Linked DNA regions of Homo sapiens: region 2 is linked to region 1. Evidence: fine-mapped expression QTL. Tissue or cell type: whole blood. Region 1 holds a variant in brackets; the other region holds the start of a gene. All regions are shown on one strand. Distances are between the middles of the regions.

Region 1 (5,372 bases):
CTGGGAGGGCAGGGCTCCTGCCTGTTCCTGGCCCTCCAAGACCACGGGAGGCCCAGGTCTACTGCCTGGCTTGGGCAGCTGCAGCCATGCCTGTGAGGACGGGGCTGCTGCCTGCTCCTGGCTCCTGCTGGCTCCATGGAGCATGCAGCCCCAGCTGTGCCCCCTTGCAGCATGGGCTGGGGGCTCCTGATCCTTGCTGGGCCCCAAGCCAGTGTCCGGGGCAGGGGCGACATCTCCATGAGCTCTCCCCATTGCCCTTGTGCTCCAGGATGGCCTGGGATGGAGTGGATCTCGGGCCCTGGGCTCGGCCATCAGAAGTGGCAAGCTTGGCAGCCATCTTGACTCAGGGCAGACCCCAGGGACCCGGCCCTGGATGGCCTGTGTAGAGCCTTCTTCTGAAGTGCAGGAACCTGGCACCCTAGGCGGTGTGGGCACAGTGGCTGTGCCACTGGCCAGGTCCCAAAAGTGGTTGCCACTTCCACTTCCTGTCCTGGATCCCCAAAGTGCAGCCCCAGCTCTGCACTGGGGCCCCTTTCTGCCCAGCCATGCTGCTCCCCTGCTGCACTGCTCCCCCTCCTGAACGGGATTGGGCTCGGCCCCTTGCAGCCACCCCCAGGGCAGTGGGCTGTGGGGGGCCCTGTCCACCTCCTACCTGCACCCTCCCTGCAGCAGCTGGTGTGATGGTAGTGCCACACCACATGCTTGTTGCTGCCATCAATCCCTGCTCTGAAGAGGTACATCTAATGGCCGTTAGGATAGGGACGATGACTGCTCTTAACTTAGAGGCCTATCTAGGGTCCCCAGTGTAGAGAGCCATCGTCCGCCATTTGCATGGCCATTTGGAGTTTGATGGCCCAACTGTTTCTTCTGAACTGTAGTCACAGACCACTGGTTGGTTCACCCCCACAATGGCCAAAAGCTACAAACAGCTTAAAAGAAAAGCTTCCTCGATTCTGGAAGACAAAACAAAGGATCAACCATGTCCCAAAAAGTCAAAAGAAGATGACTTCAGTCTTCCACTGGTTCAGTTCACCAGGTCAACTCCTGTTCAAAATCTTCAGTTATCAGAAACCTACACTGAGGGCTGAAGACGGTCCTTTGAAGAGTGTCAAAACTAGACAACACTTGTCTGAACGTCAAAATGTCCTAGGCTAGTCACAGTCAAAAACACAATGGATAAAGAACTGGTTGCCTCTGTAGTCTCCAAGAACCTAACAGTAACCTTAATTATGATTGAGAACACACACTCCGACAGCAGGATTTGAGGAGGCCCCTACCATTTTGGAGCACATATTAACATGACTCACTAAAATATAAATACCTTATTTTGACAGTTGGGGGGTTGTGTTTTTTTCTTTTAAAATTAGTATGTGGCCTGAACAGGGAGGAACGTGGGCGCTTTTGAAGGGCTGCGCCGGGAGGAACCAACAGCCTTTACTGGGGCTGAGGCGCAGGGGCAGCGCTTTCCGGGGCCGTGACTCCACTGGGGCCTCGTAGGCGCTCCGGGCACACGGACAGATCCCGGGGAAGGGGCCAAGGGCAGAGCAGGGCGCATGTCAGAGCCCCGGCCACCGTCTCGGCAGCTGCCCTCTCGGAGGCCATGGCCGTGGCCCTGCTGTCGGCTCCAGGCTGAGGCCAGGACGTCGCCGTGCCCGGGGGTGCGGAGCCTGGCATGGATCGCAGTTTGGGAACAGGCACATGGCCCACGGGGCTCCTCTGGGTTCCTCCCCAGGCGGGCGGGCGGGCCGCGGGCAGCCCCCAGGAGTCACCCGTGGCCTGGGCTGGCCTGGGGGTCGTGGTGACTCGGTAGCCTCGCCCCAGCGGTGCGGTCCGGGAACAGGAGCCCGCGTGGCTTCTCGGCGCCTCCGCCCCAGTCGCACTTTGTAGTAGCCCCACCTGAGGCTCCCATGCCCTGGCACCGAGGGGCAGCCGCCCCACCCTGCTGACTTCCCGCGCCGTGCTCACAGGGCCTCGGACAGAGGGCGGAGCCTCGGTGCTTGTCGGAGGGGCTGGGGGTCAGAGGGCACAGCGATGGGGCAGAAAGCCAGGTCGGGGCTGAGCAGTGAAGCTGAAGAAGGAGCGCGATGGGAAACTTGAGGAGTCAGGATGCGATTCTAGACCTACAGCTGCTCCTTCTGCTCCTTCTCGTGGGACGAGATGGGGGCAGCAGCCGGGGTGACTTTCCCTGCCCTCCTCACTCGGCTTGAGGAGGAATGACGCGGCCACCAGGGAGCGTGGGGCGGAGGGGGCCCCCTGGTG[T/G]TCACGGGGCCCAGGGCACCGGGCCAGTGAGGTCCCTGGTGTGTCCCATCGTCCCCTGCCCGCCTCTGGGGCTGGTTTTTCTGCCATGGCTAAGGTCCTGCAAGCGGCCTGCGGGTTCTCAGCTCTCAAACCCAAGCTCCTGCCCCACCCTCCTCCAAGAGCTGGTTCTTGGAGTGCAGCCTTGGAGTGCGGCCCGCCCTGGGAGGACGCTTCCAGGAAGGAACCTGCCCAGGCCTTGGCAATGGGGCCAGGCCCTTTGGGCAGAGATTTCTGGGCTCCGAGGTGCCTAGGGCATGGTGTAGAAGTTGGGGCACGGGCTTCCTGTGGGCCGACCCTGCAGATCCTGCCTGGCTTTGCTAGGACTACCCACTTTACAAAGCACCACAAACCGCCAGGCTTGAGCAACAGGAAGCCCTTGCCTCATAGTTCTGGAGGCTGCAGGTCTGGCAGGATTGGCTTTTCAGAGCACCTCTGTCCTTGGCTTGGAGGTGGCCATCTTCTCCCTGTGTCTCTTCACATTGTCTTCCTTTTATGTGTCTGTGTCCTACTTTCCTTTTTCTGTAAGGCCACCAGTCATATTAGGTAGGGCCCACCCTAATGACCTCACTTTAACTTGATTATCTTTGTGAAAACCTGATCCCCAAATAAGGTCATACTGTGAGATTCTGGGGGTCAGGACTTCAGCATATGGATTTTGGGGGAAAACAATTCAATCCATAACTGATTCAGTCCGTAGCCAGGTTGGGAAGGGCTCAGCCAGATGTGGGCTGAAGCTAAGCCCTCAAAAGCTCAGGGCCCAGGACAGGGTCCTTTTCCTAAGGACCCTAGAGGCGACGGGCAGTGGGGAGGGATGAGATGTGATGGGAGATGAGCCCAGAGTGGTGGGGGCCCTGATGAAGGGGTTGGCACATGGGTGGTGGTACAGCAGGAAGTCTCTGAAGGGCTTTGGGAACGGACAGTACAGTGACCAGATCTGCACCCCAGAACCCTGACTCTTGGTCCAGGCTGCACCCCAGACTGGGGTGGGACCCCATCAGTATTGGATGTGTAGGCATGTCTGTGAAGCGCTGCTTTAGAAGCCTAGCTGAGCATGTGATGGTTAAGTTCATGAGTCAACTTGACTGGGCTAAAGGACACCCAGAGAGCTGGCAAGACGTTATTTCTGGGAGTGACCCCAACAGGCAGAGTACTCCTTTTAAAGACAACTGAAAGGAAAATATCCACCAGCGAGGCATTTCCTAGTCCTGTGACCAGGAAGTGATCAAAATGGCTCAGTTTTGACCTTCAAGCTTTAGCAAGGTGGTCAAGGCCAGGTGGTATGGGAATGGACGCTGGAAAAGCCCAGGTCAAGCTGGCCTGTCTCTCTGTTCCCTGCAGTGGAAGCAGGGCCTCCTGGACACCTGAATGAAAGAGACGCTCTGTGTATCCCTGTTATCAGGCAAAAATGCATCTCATATGTAATCAGGAACATTTTATCCAAATCCTTGCTCAGATGTGGACACAGGGGAAGAAAGCAAAACAAGTCCGGGCACCCAGAGCCCATATGGGCCACAGACACACCCTGTGAGCACTTATCGGGGGGGCTAATAACACCCCCCCAACACCATGTGACCCCTCTCCAGGATAGCACACAACTGTTTGCAGTGCAATGAATGTGACATTTATTCTCAGCTATGTGCAGAGTCAAGTGAGGTTATAGCAAATAAAATACAGAAATATTCATTTTCCTTCTAAAAAGGGCTCTTAAATGTCAAATCAAATGAAATGGAATCATTGTATCGGGGCAGAACACATATAGCTTGCAGATTGTGCAAACTATATGTTCCCCCAACCTCGCTGCTCCCTGTAGAAGCATTTTATTGACCTAGGCCAGTTAAATAAAGTTCATATACACTTATTAGTTAAGCAAATGTCATTTGCTAGAGTCTGACCAAAATTCATTAGCTAACTTCTCCTCACTTTCAGCTCCTCCCACCCCAGAAACCTCACACTTTTTGTCTGGTTTTCTTTGCCGGACTAATTATAAGGTTTTCTGACAGCAAGTATACATGAACTAGTTGAGCTCTGTAGTCCACCTTTAACACCTGAAAATGATCCCACTAAAATTCCTGGCATGCGGCATCCAGACGTCAGCATTTCTGGGCCCCGAGGCTTTGGGAGCACGCAGGCTGTGGGAAAAGCAGGAGGGAAGCCTGGGGCTGCTAGGCTAATGCCCAGGAGTGGCTGGACCAAGCTGAGTGGCAGCCTGCCCTATCCTGAGAGAGCCAGTGCAGGAGACTCAACCGAGCAATAAACATGCCCAGCTCCAAAAGGCAGGCCTCTGTGCACAGATGTTGTGATGTTATGAGATAATTTTCAGGCCTCAATGGGGTGAAAGGGTGGATTTGTCAAGAGAGGGGCATACCTATGGCGGTCTTTTCACTGAGCAACACCATGATTTCATTACCATGTCAATTCTGGGAGAAGGCCCTGATTTAACACAGCAGTTGGCTGAATGCATATGGAGCGGGTGGACCTCTGAATGAATAGTGAATGGAAAACCGGCTGGAATCTGCCTTCAGCTTTGTTTCAGGATGACCAATGTAAGGGACCCCAGAGCTTGCAGCACAGATGGTAGGAGGGGACCGGGACTCCGCTGGGCTTCTCTTCTTCTCCTTTTTATTCTATCACTTGCGGGGGTTCCTCTGTATTTGTGTACATATTTCAGTTGCCTAACTAAATTTGCTGCAATTTCTCATTCTACTAAAGCAAAATTAGCTTTGAGGGGAATTAGAGATGAAACACAATAACATATGTAGCAATAAACATTAAAATTTTGTGCTGTTAAAAATTGGAGTTTCAAAGACTCAGTGTTGTGAGGTTTAGAAGTAATTGAAAATGTAATTAAGAAATCATGAAAAAGACAATTAAAAGTTTGAAAGACAAGTTCAGAATTACTTCTGAAGTTCTCCAGTGTGAAGGGAATGTGCAGATTCTCACGTCGGTGCCTGCGTACATCCAGAAAAGAAAGGTTAGGTGCTTTCAGAGAGCAGGGTGGCGTCCGAAGGGCAAGTACTGTAAATCAAAGGACTCTCTGGCATTATCTAGCTTCCTTTCTGCTTTAAAAGTTAGAA
Region 2 (5,327 bases), 37 kb before region 1:
GTGTGTGGGGGGGGGGGCCGAGAGGGGGAGACAGGGAGAGAAAAGAGCTAGTGAATGCCAGAGATCTTAAAAACCACTCGGAATTCAGGTATTGACTTCAGACATGTTTTATTATAATCTTATACAGTCTACATAAATTTGAACTTGTATTTATTTGGGTTCAGTTATAACATAGCATAATAAAAATCAAAGCACTGGTCCTCTGAAATAAAGCAGGCAATCACCATTCAATAAACACACTTGATTTATTTTGTATAAAAGGGTTAAGTTTACAACTAAACTTTTATAAAAAGTTTAGCATGAATAAGTACATCATTACACTTTTGAATGCAGAAATAGACATCTCTGCCACTATACAAGAAAACTCTAATTAAAGAGTTCACAAGGTTTCACTCAAATAGATATATTTATATATAAATATATACACAGCATTCAGTAGGCTTGTGTCAAAAAGGTAATTTCTGACCAAAAGACTTCATTTAAGTGACTGAATACTGGATCCTTCTGGTATTCACGCTCCACCTTTGAAAAAAGGCAAAGTCTGCTTAGATTGGGCAATTCCTTGTGATTTTAACGTTTTCGCTCCCCATGGTGGGAATAGTATATAAAGAAAACCTTCCAACTGCAGAAAGGGCATTTAAAAGTCTTTTTCATAAATAACGAATATCACAGTCCAAGTAAGAGAACACCCTGGGAAGATGATCATTCTTAGTTTTCCTTCCATTTTTTTTTTCTTTTTAAAAAGGTCCATTCAACTTGTCCTCCTTGTGAAATGGTTGAAAAATAAGTTCAGCACTTAAAAGATTCCGTGAATTTGTTGTTGTTGTTGTTGTGCAAAGAATAAAAGAAATCATGAACACCTGCGAAAGAGTGGGGGAGAAAGGCATGTTTAAGAGAATGTAACCTAAGGGCAGAGGCGGGCGACTGGCGCCGGGAGGAAGCCACAGTTTGAACATTTAACCAAACACTCAAAGATTGGGCAAACCCTGGCGTCCAGATGCAACACACACACTCGCCTCGACAGCGCAAATTAAACATTAAAATAGCAGAGACTCAAGGGAAAAACTTCCCAACCCAATCTCCTATTTGGATCTCCAACAGCAGTGCTACAGGCGCCAGTCTGCTTCTCGTAACAATTATTTGATTGAAAACAGCCCTTTAGTTAACAGATAGGGAAGTCTGGGATCCCACATCACAGGGTTGAAGGCACAGGGTAGCAATCCTCAACTAGCCCAGAGAATCCCAGAGGACTATAGTTTTAGGGAAGGAGGATCACTATGGAATTTGTGGCGGTAAGATTAATTACAGTGGAGGTTAGTACCTCATAGTACCAGAGGACTCGTAGGAAGATCCAGGGCATTACATTTGCTACAAAGCCAATACACACGTTCCTCGGCCGCCTTCGTAGTAAGTTATTGGCATCATTTCCTTTTAAAGGAAAATGTTCTGTGATCTCGAGCACCCAAAGCTACAAGCTCCTTCATGTCTAGTGAGACAATGTAGTACGGGTAACACCGCGAAGTAAGCATGCATTTACCAAATCAGACATTTTATAGATACACAAGCAAAAACACATGCGCGCGCGCGCACACACACCGAGGGGCAGTTTACCCACGGGTGGCACAAGCAAACACTCACCGCTTATTCAGCCACACAGTGCTTTGCTGTCATTTGACATTAACTCAGAAGGGAATTCAGAAGCCTGGAAAGAAAGAGGATAAAGAGTACGAGGTTAAGACAATGTTAAGTAGAAAGGGTTTTTTTTTTTTTTTTTTTTTTTTTGTAGTCCACAGACCAGCAAGTTCCATTAAACACGTTTATGGTAACAATTCAGATTTAAAGACAGACGCATTAACATGTCAGAACTTACTAGCAATTTCACGCACAGCTCAATCTACAGCAGATTCTGAAGAAAATAAAGTTAAATAGCTCATACGAAAGTCACCGTCTGGGCTACGGATCTCCTAGTGACAGCCCAGACGACCGCGGGAGTGTGCGGCGGCGGGGCGGGGACCCCGGAGCAGGTCTTACCTGCAAGGACAGGATGCTGATATCCGTGTTGAGGGTGGTCAGCGGCGTCCTGGACGCCTGGTTCTGCCCGGGTCTCTGGTGATGCAGGCTGACAATAGTGGGATGCGAGTCCAGGGCGATCTGCAGGTCCAAGATGTAGTCGATGACGTGCTGCAGGATTTCCATCTTGCTCACCTTCTTGTTCTGGGGGATGCTGGGCACCAGCTCCTTGAGCTTGGAGTAGCAGTCGTTCATGTTGTATAGCAGGCTCATCGGGTCGTCCACAGGGGTTTTGCTCCGGGAGATGCCCAGGCTGTGGTCCGACAGGCTGTTTTTCCTAACGGACCTCACGGGACTGAAGGCTTTCATGCTGACCGCGAGGGAAGGCGAGACCGGGAGGGAGCTGGCTGCCCTGAAGCTCAGGCCGCCGCTGCCGCCTGCTGAGCTAGCTGCGCTTGGCACCGGGCTCGGCTCAGAATGAAGCCCGAGCCCGGCGGGGCGGCTTTTATCCGCACTCGCCGGGGCCACACGCTGGAGCTTCCCTTCGTCCCCATTGGCGGAAGGTGGCACGTCTATCAAGACGAGCGGGCGCTTCCATTGGTGGGCGCGGGCGCGGGGCGTGGGCTTGGTTCTTCCGCGTTCGCAGCCAATCCCCGCGGGGTGGGCGGGGCGCGAGCCCAGCTGGGGTGGTAAATAGAGTACAGTACAGTAAGTGCGGGGCTGGCGGGGGGCGGGGGGCGGGGAGCGGCGGGCGGGGGGCGGGGAGGAGGGAGGCGGGAGGAGGGAGAGGAGGAGGGAGGAGGAAGAGAAGGGAAGATGGGGGAGGGGAAGGGGGAGGGGAAGGGGGAGGGGAAGGAGGAGGGAGAAGGGGGCAGACCCTGGGCGCCTAAATATGCATTCTTAATTCTAATTCCAAGCGCGCGGCGGGACCCTTGCCCTGGGGGTGTTCCCAGACCAAGCCCTACACACCTTAGAGCTGTCGGCAGCTCTAAAATCACAGCTACACGGGCGAGTTCAGCACCGCAGGGGGGAAGCCACAGTTCACTGCAACCCATCGGAGGGAGAGCGTGAGGAAAGATAGAAAGCATTTCAGAAGAAAGTGAAAACGCAAATTAGGTTGTCACTGAAGAGTCACGTTTGTAGAGTGAGTTCGTCTCTTCAGATAAGGAAAAGTTATGTTAACACAAACAAACCACCCACGCACGCATTCGACGACAGGCTTAGTGTGGGCTTTTGCAACCCGGAGCAGCGCGGGAGGCATTACTGTAAACTCAAGAAAATGAGTACTTATTGCAAACCATGCCCAACCTCACCGGTCGCTAAGGAGCTCTCACAGGCAGGGCGCTTTCAGGGTTCCTTTTCAAGAAGGAGGCAGGGCTATTATAATGATCGTATTAATCGGAAATAATTAGGAGAATTTGCATATTGAAACTACATTTACATACACTGCCCTTGAAAGGCTGCCGGTCTGTGCCCTTCCGTGTAGGTGGCAAAGTAATGTGATTAATTATGCACTAATTGTGATTTCTGGTGTCACATTCCAACACCTAGAGGAGTTCCAAAGCTTTGTGACAGATAGGTGGCCCTAGCCATTGATAGACATCTTCACACTAAGGAAAAAAAAATATTCTGTCATATGAGGTTTGGAATCTTTTCAGCACTAGTACTGAATACGGGTTCAAGGTTTTTTTTTTTTTTTTTGGCTGAAAATCTTTTAAGAACTCGTTCTTTCAGTCTAAGTTTTAAAAAGTTTGCAGCTATTTACTTAAATACCTTAATTTTCACATAATTGTAGCTTATCTAGAATTCTGTTTTGACCACAGTGTGTCAGTTTCTTGTTTTTGAAAATATTTGCTCCAGAAAACAATGAACTAGAAAACTCCAGGAAAGGCAATATTCAAATCTTATTTACTTTCTGCCTCAATCTCTACCTCCTTTGCATTTCAGAAAGCGGAAGGGGCAGGCCTAGAAGCTGAAAGAAAAGCTCGATAATGGGGAAACAGTGTTTTTTCCTTCAATTAATGATTAATTTCTCAGCTGGTGGGGCCAGCAGTCTCTGACCGTCACGTGACAGCTATGCGCCCCATGACGCCTCTCCAGGGAGGCAGAGTGGGTGGCACTGAGGTGGAGCTCACCTTCCTGAAATTCAGCCCCCTCAGTTTGGAGGAAGGAGGTAAACTGTTTCCTGTCCAGCCAGAAGTTTGCGGAGGGCCTTCCCCAGGCCAGGCAATGCTGCCTGCGACTCTGTCCCTGACAGCGTTGGATGCACCGTATCTCTTCTGATATTAAGTCTGGAAGTGATTTACTATCCGAGTCCTCCCACAGTTCGAGCCTTTTGATGTACTTTGTGTGCATGTGTTTCTGTCACATACGTGCCACAGTGGAACAGATTTTGTTTTGACACTATTTTGGTTCATGATGTTATACTTTGACTATTTTACAATAATAGCCAATGTAAACAAACATCTTTGGGATTCTCAAATTATTACTTATGATTCTTGGACATTGCAGCTCTTCGATACTGACGCATTCCTAGCTTTTTCCAAGGACACCGTATGTTAACATCCGTGCCAGCCTCATTATCCCCACAGCCAGGCTCTGGGTTGGGCGGTAATGAGCATTGTGCGGTTTCACTTTACACTTTGCAAAGTTGATTAAGGCAGTGCCTTCTCCCATGATCATTTTTGTACCCTGATGTAGTAAAATGGCTAAATATGGTGAAAGTTTTCTGGTGTTTCTTTCTTTAGCTGCCATGTCAGAGTCCAGTCTGCCTGGCTGTGTTGAATTCGATTCTATTGGCACGCTACCCAGTTTTACATTCATTTAAAGATCATTTAAAGGGGATTACGAAGCTGTATAAGTTAATGATTTAAACGAGGCCTAAGTTACTAGTGTGTCTGTTTCAGCACGCCCAATATGAAATCACCTTAAAAATTGCTTTCGTGGGGGAAAATCGTGTCGGAGCATTTTCCAAGTGGGTTTAAAGGCAAGTCAAAATCTGTCAATTGGTGGCTTGGGTGGGTTTGCATTTGAGGCCTCCAAAGTTCAAACGGCCCCAGCTAGAGGGAGGGCTAGATCCGCGGGCGGTGGGAAGGTGTGCAGGGCTTCCGCTGGTGGGTGTTGGTGCGGTTCCCCTCGACTCCCCACCGGGACGCCCCCACCCCGTGGCAGCGACAGACCGGCCCGTAAGGTCCCCCAGCCTGGCTCCAGGACTCACTCACTCCGCCTCTAGGGCAGGCCCCGCGGCGGCTCTCGCGTCCGGGCCCCTCGCGGTAATCAGAAGCAGCTCCGGGCCGGGAGCTCCGCGCTGGCCAGGC

The links. PIP is the estimated chance that this variant, and not a neighbour inherited with it, causes the effect.
Region 2: it holds the start of ID2, and the variant in region 1 is fine-mapped to the expression of ID2 in whole blood (TOPMed, PIP above 0.99).

What each region holds. Positions count from the first base shown.
Region 1 is chr2:8,641,961-8,647,332 of GRCh38, reverse strand. All of the region lies in intron 1 of LOC105373411 (a long non-coding RNA gene), which reads left to right. Among named protein-coding and RNA genes, the nearest start is that of ID2-AS1, 37 kb to the left of the region's middle. RefSeq lists an enhancer at 3,872-5,372. The variant T/G (reference allele first, on the strand shown) is at 2,260.
Region 2 is chr2:8,679,218-8,684,544 of GRCh38, reverse strand. ID2 (inhibitor of DNA binding 2) reads right to left here and starts at 2,489. Exons shown (of 3, transcript NM_002166.5): 1 at 2,032-2,489; 2 at 1,639-1,702; 3 at 84-860. The coding sequence starts at 2,379. The coding sequence ends at 1,646. It overlaps ID2-AS1 (ID2 antisense RNA 1), which reads left to right and starts at 2,682. Exons shown (of 4, transcript NR_110154.1): 1 at 2,682-2,718. RefSeq lists enhancers at 2,250-2,299, 2,787-3,290, 5,185-5,327 and a silencer at 5,274-5,327.